2 separate regions of the Homo sapiens genome follow, and region 2 is linked to region 1. Evidence: fine-mapped expression QTL. Tissue or cell type: whole blood. Region 1 holds a variant in brackets; the other region holds the start of a gene. All regions are shown on one strand. Distances are between the middles of the regions.

Region 1 (8,053 bases):
CCCCCACCCCCCAGAAGGTGACTCACCCGGCAGGGGAGGTGAAGTCATTCCTCCCCCAGGTACATTCTGGGGACAGCTGTGTCCCACCCACCAGTGGTGCCATCACATCAGATTAGAGGTCTGGTCAGAAAGGGGCCTGGCTGGTCCCTGGGGCTCCATGTCCCCCCAGTCTAGCCCAGCCAGGCCCCCTTTCCCAAACTTCTGATCATTAATGGGGCTTTCAAAACAAGTAAAACTGCAACCACAGGGGCTGCAGGGCGCTCAGCGAGGGTGGCAGACCTCAGCCGCCACCCCTGCTTCCGTTCTGCCAGGCGAGTGCCTGGGGAGCCCCAAGGCTGCTTGGGGTCTGGGAGGGGCTGCTAGGGTGGGGCGCCTCCCCACTCAGTTGAAAGGAACTTCCCTTCCACTGGGGCCATCAGGGCCAACTTCCTGGAAGAGGTGCCTCTGAGCTGAAGCAGGAAGGCTTTGTCAAGATGGAGTAGGGAGAGAAGGGGCCTTCCAGGTCTCAGCACAGCCTGGGCAAAGGTGCAGAGGTGGGATCCACTGGGAGGACTGGAAGCCTGGGAAGGAGGGCAGGCAATGCAGTTGGGTCTCTTGATCCCCCCTCCCCAATCACAGACAACTAGGGCTCTCCACAGGCTCAGAGGGGCCAGGGCCAGGCTGCTATGTGACTTCAGCCATTCTTGCCGGGTGGGCCTGGGGTCAGAGGGAAAGCAGGGACCAGGGCCAGATCCATCTTCGAGTCTGTCAGAACAATGGGCAAGTCTTGTTCCCTGCTGGGTCCATGTGCCCACACAGCCTCAGCCTTCTTAGATATTCTGCAGGGTGACCCCCTGCTTCTGAGCCCAGAATTGGACACACAGGAAGGCCCTTGGGGCCAGGCGTGGTGGCTCACAGCCGGGCTGTGCCCTCTGCCTGGAGCCGCAGCCTGGATGCCTCCCACCCCACATTTAGGCTTCAGGCCCCACAGCTGCCTCTTCCCAGAACCCTCCCGGCACGCACTTCGGCGACTCTTACAAGTACCTGTTCAGCGTCAGCCTTCGCCCAGGAGTGCAGGCTGGGGACGAGGGCAGTGGCCACCTCTGCCGGTCCTGTCAGCACCTAGTGCAATGTCCAGCCCACCGTGGGCACTCAACGCAGGCGGCTGTGCTGCCGCAGGTCACAGCACCAATCAGACACCCCCATCCCCACACACACCCTGCACCGGCCCACGCGGCCATCACACTCGGAGCACACGCGCTCCGATGTGGCTGCACTGTTGGCACACGCACAGGCGCGCACGTGGGCGCATACACGCCGGGGCGCCCTGACCTCCCCGCACGCCCTCCCGCAGCCGCCCCGGCCTCTGTCCCCACGCGTGTCACACACGGCTGGGTGTGCTCGCTCACGCCGTCCCGCGACGTTGCTCCAGCCGGTGCCCGGAGCTCGATCGGGAGAGCTGCTGTTGGCCGCCTCTGCCTGCCAGCGTTTGCCAAGCGGTTTCCATGGTGACACATCTTGGCTCCGACAGGAACCAAGGAGTGTGGGGAAGAGGGTCCCCACGGAGGGGGCGAGGCGAGGCAGGAGGTCTCTGCGTCTTCAGGCTCCCGGCAGGCATGGGGGGCTCCACGAGTGCAGACACCCCCCAATCCCAAGCCAGGCTTGCACCCCGAGAAGGAGGCTCTGGGCTGGTCCCTCTGGGCTGCCTGGCACAGGGACTGACTTAGGTCAGTCAGTCATTCAACAAACTTTCTGGAAGAGCCACTCTGTGCTCACAGCCGGGTCTACGATGCTGCCCAAGACGTGGTCTCGCAAGAGGCTCGGAGTCGAATCCTGAGGCTAAACTGACGTCCCGCCACCCTACTGAAGGCCCCATCTAGCAGGTTGGTCCGTGGCTGCGTAAGCACCAAGGCCCACCAAGCACTTTCTCAAAGGGGGGCTCCCCTCTGTGGTAGATCAGTTACAAACGTGTCCCCGATGCCCCACTCCTCCCTGAATCACCACGCCCTTTGCTGTGTGACTTTGCCCCAACTCCTGTCTAGAGGTGGCGTCTACTTCCCCATCCTTCAATCTGAGCCTGTCTTATGACTTGCTGTGGCCAATAAAAGGTGACAGCAATGACATTCCCAGCTCTGAGCTTAAGCCTCCAGGGACATGCGTGCCTCTGCCTGCTCTCCCCGACTCCTGCTATAGCACGAGAACGGGCTGGGCTGCTTTGCTGGAAGGCAAGAGGGCGATGGAGCCTGGGTCACCCTAGCTGAGGCCATCCTGGACTAGCTAGCTCCCAGCTGCCCACAGATGTGTGAGTGAGCCCAGCTAGGACTTGCCAGGCCTAGCAATGAGCAGCAGTACCACCAGGCCCTTTAATACTAAGGACATGTGAAGTCATGTGTTTGGAGCTATTTGTTACTCAGCACTAGCTACCTGATACCCCTCTCTCTAGGGCCCTGGCCAGCAGCTGCCCAACCTCAGTTAGCACAGGCCAGAGGCTCTAAAAGTTCCCAGGGGTGCTAAGAACCAGGCCATGGTGACAGCTGGATTCCGCTGGCTAACAGTGCCAGAGGGTGCCGGGGACAGAGCTTGTGGGAGGGGGTTCCCATGACAAGTCCATGGCAGGAGCTACTGAAGCAGAAGCACGAGTCTCCACTGCCTTTCTTTGCCTCGGTTTTTCCCCCTGTGAAATGGGCCCATCACCCTGTCCTGTCTCTTGGGGACCCCTGGTAAGGTAGCGTGTGTGGCAGCTGGAAACAGACCTACTACGTGCCAGCCCCGGGTTGCAACCTAGGGAGAGAGGCCCATTGCTGCCTTCTAGGTTCCCACAACTGAGAAGGCAGCGTCACTAATCCCAGCTTACAGACTGGAAACAGTGGGGAGAGGATGAGTGGCTTGCCCGAGGCCCAGGACACACAGGAGCAGGTGGGCATGGCCACAAGCCCCGGCTGGGTCTGAGCTGGTGGTTATCTTCATGTTTTTCTCCCTGTGGTCACCTTTTTGGAAATTTTTTTTTTTTTTTTTTTTTTTTTTTTACATTTGACTATTTTCTTGTTTATTGGTATTTCTTTGGGAGATTTTTTTTTTTTTTTTTTTTTTGAGATGGAGTTTCGTTCTTTTTTTTTTTATTTTTTTTTTTTTTATTGATCATTCTTGGGTGTTTCTCGCAGAGGGGGATTTGGCAGGGTCACAGGACAATAGTGGAGGGAAGGTCAGCAGATAAACAAGTGAACAAAGGTCTCTGGTTTTCCTAGGCAGAGGTCCCTGCGGCCTTCCGCAGTGTTTGTGTCCCTGGGTACTTGAGATTAGGGAGTGGTGATGACTCTTAACGAGCATGCTGCCTTCAAGCATCTGTTTAACAAAGCACATCTTGCACCGCCCTTAATCCATTTAACCCTGAGTGGACACAGCACATGTTTCAGAGAGCACGGGGTTGGGGATAAGGTGACAGATCAACAGGATCCCAAGGCAGAAGAATTTTTCTTAGTACAGAACAAAATGAAAAGTCTCCCATGTCTACTTCTATCCACACAGACCCGGCAACCATCCGATTTCTCAATTTTTTCCCCACCCTTCCCGCCTTTCTATTCCACAAAACCGCCATTGTCATCATGGCCCATCCCCAATGAGCCGCTGGGCACACCTCCCAGACGGGGTCGTGGCCGGGCAGAGGGGCTCCTCACTTCCCAGTAGGGGCGGCCGGGCAGAAGCACCCCTCACCTCCCGGACGGGGCGGCTGGCCGGGCAGAGGGGCTCCTCACTTCCCAGTAGGGGCGGCCGGGCAGAGGCGCCCCTCACCTCCCGGATGGGGCGGCTGGCCAGGCGGGGGGCTGATCCCCCCACCTCCCTCCCGGACGGGGCGGCTGGCTGGGCGGGGGGCTGACCCCCCACCTCCCTCCCGGACTGGGCGGCTGGCCGGGCGGGGGGCTGACCCCCCACCTCCCTCCCGGACGGGGCGGCTGGCCGGGCAGAGGGCTCCTCACTTCCCAGTAGGGGCGGCCGGGCAGAGGAGCCCCTCACCTCCCGGACGGGGCGGCTGGCCCGGCGGGGGGCTGACCCCCCCCCACCTCCCTCCCGGACGGGGCGGCTGCC[G/A]GGCGGAGACGCTCCTCACTTCCCAGACGGGGCAGCTGCCGGGCGGAGGGGCTCCTCACTTCTCAGACGGGGCGGTTGCCAGGCAGAGGGTTTCCTCACTTCTCAGACGGGGCGGCCGGGCAGAGACGCTCCTCACCTCCCAGACAGGGTTGCGGCCCAGCAGAGGCGCTCCTCACATCCCAGACAGGGCGGCGGGGCAGAGGCGCTCCCCACATCTCAGACGATGGGCGGCGGGGAAGAGGCGCTCCTCGCTTCCTAGATGGGATGGCGGCCGGGAAGAGGCGCTCCTCACTTCCTAGATGGGATGGCGGCCGGGCAGAGACGCTCCTCACTTTCCAGACTGGGCAGCCAGGCAGAGAGGCTCCTCATATCCCAGACGATGGGGGGCCAGGCAGAGACGCTCCTCACTTCCCACATGGGGTGGCGGCTGGGCAGAGGCTGCAATCTTGGCACTTTGGGGGGCCAAGGCGGGCAGCTGGGAGGTGGAGGTTGTAGCGAGCCGAGATCACGCCGCTGCACTCCAGCCTGGGCACCATTGAGCACTGAGTGAACGAGACTCCGTCTGCAATCCCAGCACCTCGGGAGGCCGAGGCTGGCGGATCACTCGCGGTTAGGAGCTGGAGACCAGCCCGGCCAACACAGCAAAACCCCGTCTCCACCAAAAAAAAAAACGAAAACCAGTCAGGCGTGGCGGCGCGCGCCTGCAATCACAGGCACTCGGCAGGCTGAGGCAGGAGAATCAGGCAGGGAGGTTGCAGTGAGCCGAGATGGCAGCAGTACCGTCCAGCTTTGGCTTGGCATCAGAGGGAGACCGTGGAAGGAGACCGTGGAGAGAGAGGGAGACGGAGAGGGAGAGGGAGAGGGGGAGGGGGAGGGGGAGGGGGAGGGAGAGGGAGAGGGAGAGGGAGAGGGAGAGGCTGTGTGTCAGAGGTTTTCCTCGGAGTTTCGTTCTTGTTGCCCAGGCTGGAGTGCAATGGCACAGTCTTGGCTAATTGCAACCTCTCCCCTTTTTGGAAATATTGTACTTCCTGAGCTAACTGCACTTACGAGGTAATGATTGGTGTGAGTTTCTAGTCTCTGTTTGTTTGTTTTTTGAGACAGAGTCTCATTCTGTCACCCAGGCTGGAGTGCAGTGGCACAATCTTGGCTCACTGCAACCTCTGCCTCCCGGGTTCAAGCGATTCTCCTACCTCAGCCTCCTGAGTAGCTGGGATGACAGGCACCTGCCACCATGCCCAGCTAATTTTTGTATTTTTAGTAGACAAGGTCTCACCATGTTGGCCAGGCTGGTCCTGAACTCCTGACCTCAAGTGATCCACCCGCCTCGGCCTCTCAAAATGCTGGGATTACAGGCGTGAGCCACTGCGCCCCGGCTCGCTCCTTTTTTTTTTTTTTTGAGACAGAGTCTCACTCTGTTGCCCAGGATAGAGTGCAGTGGTGTGATTTTGGCTCACTGCAACCTTTGCCTCCCGGATTCAAGTGATTCTCCTGCCTCAGCCTCCTGAGTAGCTGTGATTACAGGTGCCCACCACCATGCCTAGCTAATTTTTGTATTTTTAGTGGACGGGGTCTCACCGTGTTAGCCAGGCTGGTCTTGAACTCCTGAGCTCGAGAGATCCGCCCACCTCGGCCTCCCAAAGTGCTGAGATTACAGGCGTGAGCCACCACGCTGGGCCCTGCAGTCTCTTTTCACTGGGTACTGCGGTTCAGTGTTACTGCCTAGGGGCAGCTGATCCGCAGAGCCCCTCCCTCTCTGAGTTCCCCCAGGCCAGAGCTGAGAGCCAGGCTCTCCAGATCCCTGTGGGAGGGCCTTGTATCTGAGTCCAGTTTTCCTCCAGCACGAGGCCTGGCATTTAATTACCTGCTATCTTGTCAGCTGTTCAGTGTTCCTGGCCTTTGGATATTTCACCCAGCGTGTTTCATCGTCTTCAGGGAAACGGCTGGTCCAGGCACCTAGCCTGCTGTCACCAGGAAGGGACATGTGCCCCGAGGCGGGGCTGATGTCACTGCTGCACCCTGGTGGGGCGCACCAGCCCACGGCTGTGCCACCCGGGAGGTGCCCTTTTGTTGGAGGGCATTTGCCAAAACCAGCAAACTTGGGTTCTCATTCTGTGGCCTTGAGGGGTCAGGGGGACAGAAGTCAAGGGCCAGTCCTGCCCAAAATGGGGAGCATTATAGAAAACCCTTCCCACCTTAAGCTGAAAACCTAAAGGTCTACACTCTTAGGGTAAGAATGAAACGGAATTAGCCCTGCTCCCTCCACACGAAAGACACTTGGTGCTAAGAGAAGCAAAAAGAAAAAGTTCTTCAGAAGTTAGGGCTACAGGTCTTCTCTAGCACAGATTTGAGGTGCTAGCACAGATTTGAGGTGCTGCCAAGAATGCAGAGAACTCCAAGCACTCAATGCGTTGTTTTGACATAGGGTCTCTCTCTGTCACCCAGGCTGGAGTGCGGTGGTGTGATCACGGCTCACTGCAGCCTCGAACTCCTGGGCTCAAGCAATCCTCCCACCTCAGCCTCCCAAGTAGCTGGGACTTCAGGTGCATACCACCATGCCCAGCTAATTAAAAACAAAAGAGATACGGCAGGTGGATCACCTGAGGTTAGGAGTTTGAGACCAGCCTGGCCAAACTGGTGAGATTCTGTCTCTACTAAAAATACAAAAATTAGCCAGGCATGATGGTGGGCGCCTGTAATCCCAGCTACTGGGGAGGCTGAGGCAGAATTGCTTGAACCCAGGAGGCGGAGGTTGCAGTGAGCCGAGATCACACCACTGCACTCCAGCCTGGGCAACAAGACTGAGACTCCATCTCTGAACAAAAAAAAATGTGTAGAGATGGGGTCTTGCTATGTTGTCCAGGCTATTCTCAAACTCCTGGCCTTAAACAATCCTCCTACCTCGGCCTCCCGAAGTGTTGGAATTACAGGCGTGAGCCACTGCGCCCAGCCCCCAGGAATAATTTTAACCAAAATAAATTGGCCGGGCGGAGTGGCTCACGCCTGTAATCACAGCACTTTGGGAGGCTGAGGTGGGTCAATCACCTGAGGTCAGGAGTTCGAGACCAGCCTGGCTAACATGGTGAAACTCCGTTTCTACTAAAAATACAAAAAAATTAGCCAGGCATGGTGGCGTGCGCCTGTAATCCCAGCTACTCGGGAGGCTGAGGCAGGAGAATCACTTGAACCCAGGAGGCAGAGGTTGCAGTGAGCCGAGATCGTGCCATTGCACTCCAGCTTGGGCAACAAGAGCGAAACTCCATCACAAAAAACAGACAGACAGACAGATAGATAAAAAATAAACAGTGCTGGGAAAACTGGATATCCACATGCGAATGAATGACACTGGACCCTTGTCTCAGATCATTATTATTAAATTAACTCAAAAAGGGTTAAAGAAAGACTTCAATGCCATTTATTTTGAGTAGAAATAAGTCATTTCTTTAATACATCAAACTGTGGGATTTCTTGACCTTGCTTCTCTCCTGGTCCTGGCTTCCCCAGAGGATCCACCGGGCTGGGCTGGAGCCCTGGGGCTGGCAGTGTCCCACAGAAGGACATGGTGCTGCCTCCCTTGGTCCTGAGCCCCAGTGGCAGACTCTGGTTCTGCTCAGTAGCAGTCGGCCTCGTCCCCCTGCAGGAAGCCTCCCGTGGCCAGCATGTCCTGCAGGAGGGACTGGGGACTCTTTTCCACGTGGTCGCTGCTCTCGGCCAGCGTGCTCCGCAGGCCCTCCAGGTCTAGGGACCTGAGCATGGCCAGCACAGCCTCAGGCTCCTGGTCCCCTGGGGGCTGGGCCTGCTCACCCGCCCGCCACCTCGGCAGGGTGGCCTCTGCGGAGGCAGTGTTGGGGCTGCCCCTGGCCTCCCGCAGGCTGCTGTAGGAAGCAATCTTGTCCCTCAGGAAGAGAAGGAGGTCACAAGACTTCTGCGCCACAGGGCGGTCGCAGTCAAACAAGGCACAAAAGGCGAAGTCAAAGAGCCCCACGTGGCAGAG
Region 2 (8,053 bases), 25 kb after region 1:
CGTCTGCCAATGCCCGGGAAGGCTGCGTCCCGGGAAGAGGAACCCTCCCCACACTTTGAAGTCAGTTTTGGCCGCGAGCGCCAGGCCCGAGAGTCCAGAAGGGGCGCCAGAGCAGGCGGCCACAGTCGGGCTGGGAAGCGAGCCCAGGTCGCGCACGCCCCGGGCTGGGCTGCTCCCTGGCCCGCCCGCCCCCCTCGGCCGGGTCTTGGCCTCCCCGCGCCCCACTACCACGACCTCGACCCCCGAAGGCCCACGCGCCTCACCGCTCGGTTGCGTCCTCCGCCGCAACCACCCCTCGCCCAAGGCTCCGCCTCCGGACAGTGCCACCTGCCAGGCCCGGAGGAGGCGGAGGACGGAGACGGCTGGCGTGGGGAACTGAGACTGCACCCCTGGAGGCCGCTCTGGAAGCCTCGAGGGCCCAGACTTGAAGGAAGGAGTTCAAGCTGAGAGGGGCTGGGGACAGGCAGGCGCCAAGCCGGTCGCTCCGACAGATCACCCCCGCCAGGCGCCTAGTGGTTCATGCCGAGCATCCGGTGGGTGGGCGGGGCGTCTCGAGGGCGGGGATCTCTGAGGAAGGCGCGGGGTTGTGTCCGGAGGGGCGGGGCTTCGCCTGCAGGGCGCCCAGTGTCTGCACCGGCGGGAGCGAGAAAACTATGTGCCGGAGAGAAGCGTCCTGATCCGTGCACCAAAGCCCTTGGTCATTTAGCTTCAGGTTCTCAAATTAAGTCCTCCGCGGCCGCGCTGTGGCTCATGCCTGTAATTCCAGCCCTTTAGGAGGCGCAGTTGGGAGGATTGCTTGAAGCCAGGAGTTGAGACCAGCCTAGGCAACAAAGCGAGACCCCATCTCTTAAAATTTAAAAAAAAAAAAAAAAAAAAAAAAAAAGGCCAGGCGTGGTGGCTCACGCCTGTAATCCCAGCGCTCTGGGAGGCCCAGGCGGGCGGATCACGAGGTCAGGAGTTCGAGACCAGCCTGGCCAACATGGCGAAATCCCGTCTCGTCTCTAATTTTTGTATCTCTAAGATATCAAAATTAGCCGGACGTGGAGGCGCGCGCCTGTAATCCCAAGTACTCGGGAGACTGAGGCAGGAGAATCTCTTGAACCTGGGAGGCGGAAGTTGCAGTGAGCCAAGATGGTGCCACTGCACTCCAGCCTGGGCTACAGGGCGAGACTCCGTCTCAAAAAAAAAAAAAGAAAATCAGCCAGACCTGGTAGCATGCGCCTGTGGTCCCAGCTACTCCAGAGGCTGAGGCGGGAGGATCGCTTGAGCCCAGAAGTTCAAGGCTGCAGTGAGCTATGATCCTGCCCCGGCACTCCAGCCTGGGCAACAGAGCAAGACCCTGTGTTTTAAGAAAGCAAACAGGCAGAAAAACTAGGTCCAAAAAATTGAGTTCAAAACACTAACTGTGTGTTCGAGAGTCTCAAAGCCAGTGGATAGACAAGGCTCATGTTCCCAAAGCATTGTTTTATAGCAAGATTGTTGGGAGCCAACACCAGATTTAGGAAACAAAGCAGAATTCCTATGGATATTAAAATTTAAAAATTTAAAAGCACTGACTTTGCTGGGTCACCTTTATTTTATTTATTTATTTATGGAGACGGAGTGTCACTCTTTTTGCCCAGACTGGAGTGCAATGGCTCAATCTTGACTCACTGCAACCTCCACCTCCTGGGTTCAAGCGATTCTCCTGCCTCAGCCTCCCGAGTAGCTGGGATTACAGGTGCGGGCCACCACGCCCAGCTAATTTTGTATTTTTAGTAGAGACGGGGTTTCACCATGTTGGCCAGGCTGGTCTCGAACTCCTGACTTTAGGTGATCCGCCCACCTAGGCCTCCCAAAGTGCTGGGACTACCAGCGTGAGCCAACGCGCCCAGCCGTGCTGGGTAACCTTGGAAAAGCAACTTCCCTGACGCTTGCATGCCCCCTGCACACACACACACACGTACATCCTTAGAACTACATGTGTGAAAAAGTTTGAAATGCACAGTTATCTTCCCTGAAATTTGGTTCCTCATTGTGAAATGAGATACTAACATTCACCCAGTTAGGTAATTGTGGAGTAAAGAAAACTCAACAACAGCACTGTGCTAAGTGCTTCACTTACTGTAAACTTGTATGATTCTACAGCAACGGTAGGAGAGTACCACTACCAGCCCATCAGATGAGGAAAATGAGGCACAGAGAGGCTAACTCATAAGGCCTTACAGCTACTGGATTGGCACAGTTTGGATTTGAACCCAAGCAGTCTGGCTCCAGATTTGAATATTGTATTGCACAGGTCCACAATTTTTTTTTTTTTTGAGGTGGAGTCTCGCTCTGATGTCCAGGCTGGAGTGCAGTGGTGTGATCTCAGCTCACTGCAACCTCCACCTCCCAGGTTCAAGCAATTCTCCTGTCTCAGCCTCCTGAGTAGCTGAGACTACAGGCACCCACGACCCCTGGCTAATTTTTGTATTTTTAGTAGAGACAGAGTTTCACCATATTGGTCAGGCTGGTCTCAAACTCCTGACCTCAAGTGATCCACCCACCCTAGACTCCCAAAGTGCTGGGATTACAGGCGTGAGCCACCATCGTGCCTGGCCCAGGTCCACAATTTCTTATCTCAAACTTTTGGGGACAAATGTTTTTTCAGAATTCAGAACTGTTCAGATTTTAGAAATGTGACATGGCACATGTACATTAAATATGAGATTACAGCAGAGTGTGACACACACCCCATAATTAAACGTATTAATAGTTATTCAGGGCCGGGTGCAGTGGCTCACGCCTGTAATCCCAGCACTTTGGGAGGTGGAGGCGGGCGGATCACGAGATCAAGAGAGCGAGACCATCCTTGTCAAGGTGGTGAAACCCGTCTCTACTAAAAATACAAAAATTAGCTGGGCGTGGTGGCACGCACCTGTAGTCCCAGCTACTCGGGTAGCTGAGGCAGGAGAATCGCTTGAACCCAGGAGGCAAAGGTTGCAGTGAGCGGAGATCGCACCACTGCACTCCAGCCTGGGCCACAGAGCAAGACTCCGTCAAAAAAAAAAAAAAAAGAAGTTATTCAGTGAAACTCACTCATGTACACCCCGTGGGATAAATAAGCACTATAAATAGCCTCAGCTCAGAGTTTTCCTCCCGGAGAGTTGAGGTTAGGACTGGTCTGGCCTTCAAATGAGTTGTGAAGGGCTTTCGGAAGTTTGTGGAATTCAGAATCACAGATAAAAGGTCGTAGATAGGCGCTGGCTCTATAATTAGATAAGAGAAGGGCAAAAAGTTTGCGAAGCCCAAGGGTGGGAGAGTGGCAAGAGGTACTTATGCACAGGGAGCACGTAGAGCAAAGCGCCCTGGGTGAGACCCTGAAAGCAAACGAAAGTTTATTATGTGTGTTTGTTTGATTGAGACAGGGTCTTGCTCTGTCGCCCAGGCTGGACTGTAGTGGTGCAATCATAGCTCACTGCAGCCTCGACCTCCTGGGCTCCAAGCGATCCTCCCACCTCAGCCTCCCGAGGAGCTGGGACTATAGGCGTGCACCAGCATGCCTGGCTTTTATTTTTATTTTATTTTTCGAGAGACGGGGTCTCGCTACATTGCCCAGGCTGGTATCAAACTCCTGGGCTCAATTGAATCTCCTGCCTTAGGCTCCCATAGTGTTGGGATTACAGACGCGAGCCACTGCGCCGGGCCGGTTTTTTTCCCCCTCTCAGCCCCCGCGCTCCGCCCCGGGAACTCCGGGAGCGCTCCTGGTCGGCCGGCCGGCGCCCGCGGACTCTGCGCACGCGCATGGTCGCCCCAGGGGGAACGCAGGTCGCTTACCCGGCTGGGTAGGTCGGCGGCCTGGTTGCCATGGCAGCGGGGTCGCGGGCCGGCGCCAGGGAAGGCCCCGAGGCTGCGGGCGGCCAGGGCTGCCCGCGGATTCCCAGACCCGGACGCCCGAGCCAGCAACCCTGAGGGGCGGCCGGGCAGCGCCGCCACCATGTTCCTGGGCACCGGGGAGCCGGCCTTGGACACGGTAAGAACGGGCGAGGGGGCGACGCCGGGCGGGCGTCCGCGAGGCCTCGGCTCGTCTCCGTCGCCCGCAGCCTCGGGGCCCCGCGCAGGGGCCGGCCCGGGGCGTGAGGACGGGGCGCACGGCCGGGTGACAGCTGCCATTATTGTTACCGCACAAGAGCGCGCTGCAGGCCCCGCGCCGCCTGCAGCCTCGCCCGCGCCCGCTTTCGCAGAGGCCGCCGCTTCCAGGAAGCTCTCCGGGACGCCGCGCCCTCGCCTCTGGGCGCCTGCGAGTCTGCGGCCCGCAGGTGACGGAGCTCACGGTGTAAGTGCCTCCGGGCACCCCCGATCTAAGGCGGGATCCACGGATCCCGTGTGGCCCCAAGCCTTCGGGGTGGGAGGGAGGCAGCCCCAGGGTCTGGGAACCCAGCTTGGTCAGAGGAGGCTTCCTGGAGGAGGGTGGGGCCCGATGTACTCCCCAGGGCGAGGGTGCATGAGCCTTAGGTTAGTTACTTTGCCCGGTAAATATCTACTGTGTGTTAGAGACACGGGAATAAGCTGCATTCCAGTGGGGGGGGGGGGGGGGGCGGAGGGACAAGGTAATAAACAGGTAATTAAGATCGTGTCAGAAAGTGAGAAGTGCTGTGCAGAAAATGAAACAGGCCCATATGGCCGGGAGCCGTGGCTCAGGCCGGTAGTCCCCCGGTAGTCCCTGCACTCTGGGAAGCCGAGATGGGAGGATCGCTTGAGGCCAAGAGTTCCAGACCAGCCTGGGCAACATCGCAAGACCCCATCTCTACAAAAAACCATCACATTAGCCGAGCTGTGGTGGTGCCTGCCTGTAGTCCCAACTACTCAGGAGGCTGAGGTGGGAGGATCGCTTGAGCCCAGGAGGTGGAAGCTACAGTGAACTGTGATCATGGCCCTCCAAGGCCTGAGAGACAGAGTGAGGCTGAGGTGGGAGGATCGCTTGAGCCCAGGAGGTGGAGGCTACAGTGAACTGTGATCATATCACGGCCCTCCAGCCTGGGCAACAGAGTGAGGCCCTGTCTCAAAAAAAAAGAAAGCCCGTTGGGACGCGGGCAAGGAGACTGAGCAGAAGATGGGCATGAGCCTGACTATGGGGAGTCCTGCTGGCCATGCAGGGAATTTGGATTTTATTGGAGAAACAGAGGAAGCCTTTGGAAGGTTTCACATCAAGGGAACTGTGCTCACCTTGCTTCCTCCTAAGGAGACCACAGGGTTCAGCACAGCTGCACCCGCAGTAGGGGCTTGGTGCTGCTGGCCAACTTGGAGCAGCTGAAGTTGCCTGCTTGTTCCCCAGGGCACCACGTCCTGTCTCATCTGGAGGGCCTGCCTGTCTACACTGGCCTTCAGTTACTGCTTCTTCATCTTTAAGAACAAAACTGCTTGTTGTGATTATAAAAATAATTTATGTATATTATTTATTTTTTATTATTTTTTTAAGACAGAGTCTCTTGGCCGGGCACGGCGGCTCATGCCTGTAATCCCAGCACTTTGGGAGGCTGAGGTGGGCAGATCATGAGGTCAGGAGATCGAGACCATGCTGGCTAACACAGTGAAACCCCATCTCTACTACAAATACAAAAAATTAGCCGGGCGTGGTGGCGGGCGCCTGTAGTCCCAGCTACTTGGGAGGCTGAGGCAGGAGAATGGCGTGAACCCAGGAGGTGGAGCTTGCAGCGAGCCAAGATCGTGCCACTGCACTCCAGCCTGGCAGCAGAGTGAGACTCTGTCTCAAAAAAAAAAAAAAAAAAAAAAGACACAGTCTCGCTTTGCCACCCAGGCTGGAGTGCAATGATGCCATCTCAGATCACTGCAGTCTCTGCCTCCCAGGTTCAAAGGATTCTCCTGCCTCAGCCTCCTCAGTAGCTGGGACTACAGGCGCCTGCCACCACACCCAGCTAATTTTTCTATTTTTAGTAGAGGTGGGGTTTCACCATGTTGGCCAGGCTGGTCTCTAACTCCTGACCTCAGGTTATCTACCTGCCTTGGCCTCCCAAAGTGCTGGGATTACAGGCGTGAGCCATTGCTCCCAGCCCTATGTAGATCTTTGATTTCTTTCAGCAATGGTTTATATTTTTCAATGTACAAAGCCTATGCTTTTGTTAAATTTATTCCTAAGTATTTTATGCTTTTTGATGTTATTGTATATTGAATTTTCTTAATTTCATTTCAGCTTATTTACTGCTAATATATACAATAATTTTTTTTTTTTTTTTGAGATGGAGTCTTGCTCTGTTGCCCAGGCTGGAGTGCAGTGGCGCGATCTCGGCTCACTGCAAGCTCCGCCTCCCGGGTTCATAGCATTCTCCTGCCTCAGCCTCCCGAGTAGCTGAGACTACAGGCGCCCGCCACCATGCCCGGCTAATTTTTTTGTATTTTTGGTAGACACGGGGTTTCACCTTGTTAGCCAGGATGGTCTCGATCTCCTGACCTCGTGATGCACCCGCCTTGGCCTCCCAAAGTGCTGGGATTACTGGCCTGAGCCACCACGTCCGGCCTTACAATAATATTTTTATATGAATCTCATATCCTGCAAACTTGCTGAACTCATTTATTATGTTTACTAGTTTTTTAGTAGATTCATTAGGATTTTCTATGTATAAAATCATGTTGTCTGTGAATAGAGATAGTTTTACTTCCTTCTTTTCAATCTGAATGTCTTTTATTTACTTTTCTCACATTAATGTCCTGGCAAAAGACTCAAGTATAATTTGAATTGAAGTGATGAGAAAGGACAGCCTTGTCTTGCTGCTGCTATTAGAAGGGAAACATTCCGTCTTCCTCTGTTAAATATTGTGTTGCCCTGGATTTTTGTAGATGCCATTTATTAGGCTGAGGAAATTCTCTTCATAGATTATTGAGTATCTTTATCATGAATGAGTGTTAGATTTTGTCAAACATACCTTCTGTATCTTTTGAGAAAATCATATGTTTCTTTTTCTTCATTTTATTAATATGGAATATTGACTGATTTTTGTATGTTAAACCAATCTTTCATTCTTGGTCTTGGGGTGTGTGTGTGTGTGTGTGCACATAAATATATACCAGTACCAATTAGGGTACATATATATATATATATAAAATCCTTTTCATGCCTACTAGCATTTTGTTGAGGATTTTTGCAACTGTATTCATAAAGAATGTTGGTCTGTAGTGTTCTTTTCTTGTGATATTTCTTTGTCTGCTTTTGGTATCAGTGTAATATAGGTCTCATAGAATGAATTGGGAAGCATTTCCTTCTTTTCTGTTTTTTAGAAGGGTTTGTGAAGCATTGGTATTAATTTCTCTTTAAATGTTTGATAGAATTCACCAGCGAGACCATGTGGTTCTGGGTGTTTCTTTACTTCTATAAGGTCAGTAGTGAGGCCCCCTTTTTTTTTTTTTCCCCCTGTATTTTGGTAATTTCGTGTCTCTGGGTTTTTTTTCTTGGCTAAAGGTTTGTCAGTTTTGTTGATCTTTTCAAAGAACCAACTTTTGGTTTCATTGATTTTTCTATTGTTTCTATTTTCTATTTCATTTATTCACTGTAATTTTTATTCCTTTCTTTTACTTCCTTTGAGTTTAGTTTTCTATCTCCTGGTTCTGAAGGTGAAAGTTTAGATTATTGGATTATTGCCTTGAGATCTTTCTTTCTTTTTTTTTTTTAATATAGGCATTTACAGCTACAAATTGCCCTCTAAACATGGCTTTTGTGTTTTTGATTATTTGTTTTTGTTTTTCAGAGACAGAACCTCACTCTGTTGTCGATGCTAGAGAGCAGTGGCACAATCACAGCTCCCTGCAGCCTCATACTCCTGGGCTTGAGTGATCCTCCTGCCTCGGCCTCCCAAGTAGCTGGGACTACAGGCGTGTGCCACCATGCCTGGCGAATTTTTTAATTTTTTGTCAACACTGGGTGTCACTATGTCACCCAGGCTGGTCTCGAACTTCTGGGCTCAAGCAGTCCTCACTCCTTGGCCTCCCAAAGTGTTGGGATTACAGGCATGAGCAGGTGCTCAGCTTGCTTTTGTTTCTTTGCGCCTGGAGTGCAGTGGTGCGATCATGGCTCACTGCA

Evidence for each region. PIP is the estimated chance that this variant, and not a neighbour inherited with it, causes the effect.
Region 2: IQCE starts here. The variant in region 1 is fine-mapped to the expression of IQCE in whole blood (GTEx, PIP above 0.99).

The regions. Positions count from the first base shown.
Region 1 is chr7:2,530,400-2,538,452 of GRCh38, forward strand. It overlaps BRAT1 (BRCA1 associated ATM activator 1), which reads right to left. Exons shown (of 14, transcript NM_152743.4): 14 at 7,411-8,053. The coding sequence ends at 7,670. Among named protein-coding and RNA genes, the nearest start is that of MIR4648, 7.4 kb to the left of the region's middle. RefSeq lists enhancers at 350-499, 894-1,866, 3,052-3,972, 3,973-4,892, 5,602-6,103 and 1 more. The variant G/A (reference allele first, on the strand shown) is at 4,063.
Region 2 is chr7:2,555,224-2,563,276 of GRCh38, forward strand. It overlaps IQCE (IQ motif containing E), which reads left to right and starts at 3,756. Exons shown (of 22, transcript NM_152558.5): 1 at 3,756-3,994. The coding sequence starts at 3,959. It overlaps BRAT1 (BRCA1 associated ATM activator 1), which reads right to left and starts at 301. Exons shown (of 14, transcript NM_152743.4): 1 at 264-301. RefSeq lists silencers at 56-295, 3,638-4,147, 4,368-4,437 and an enhancer at 208-885.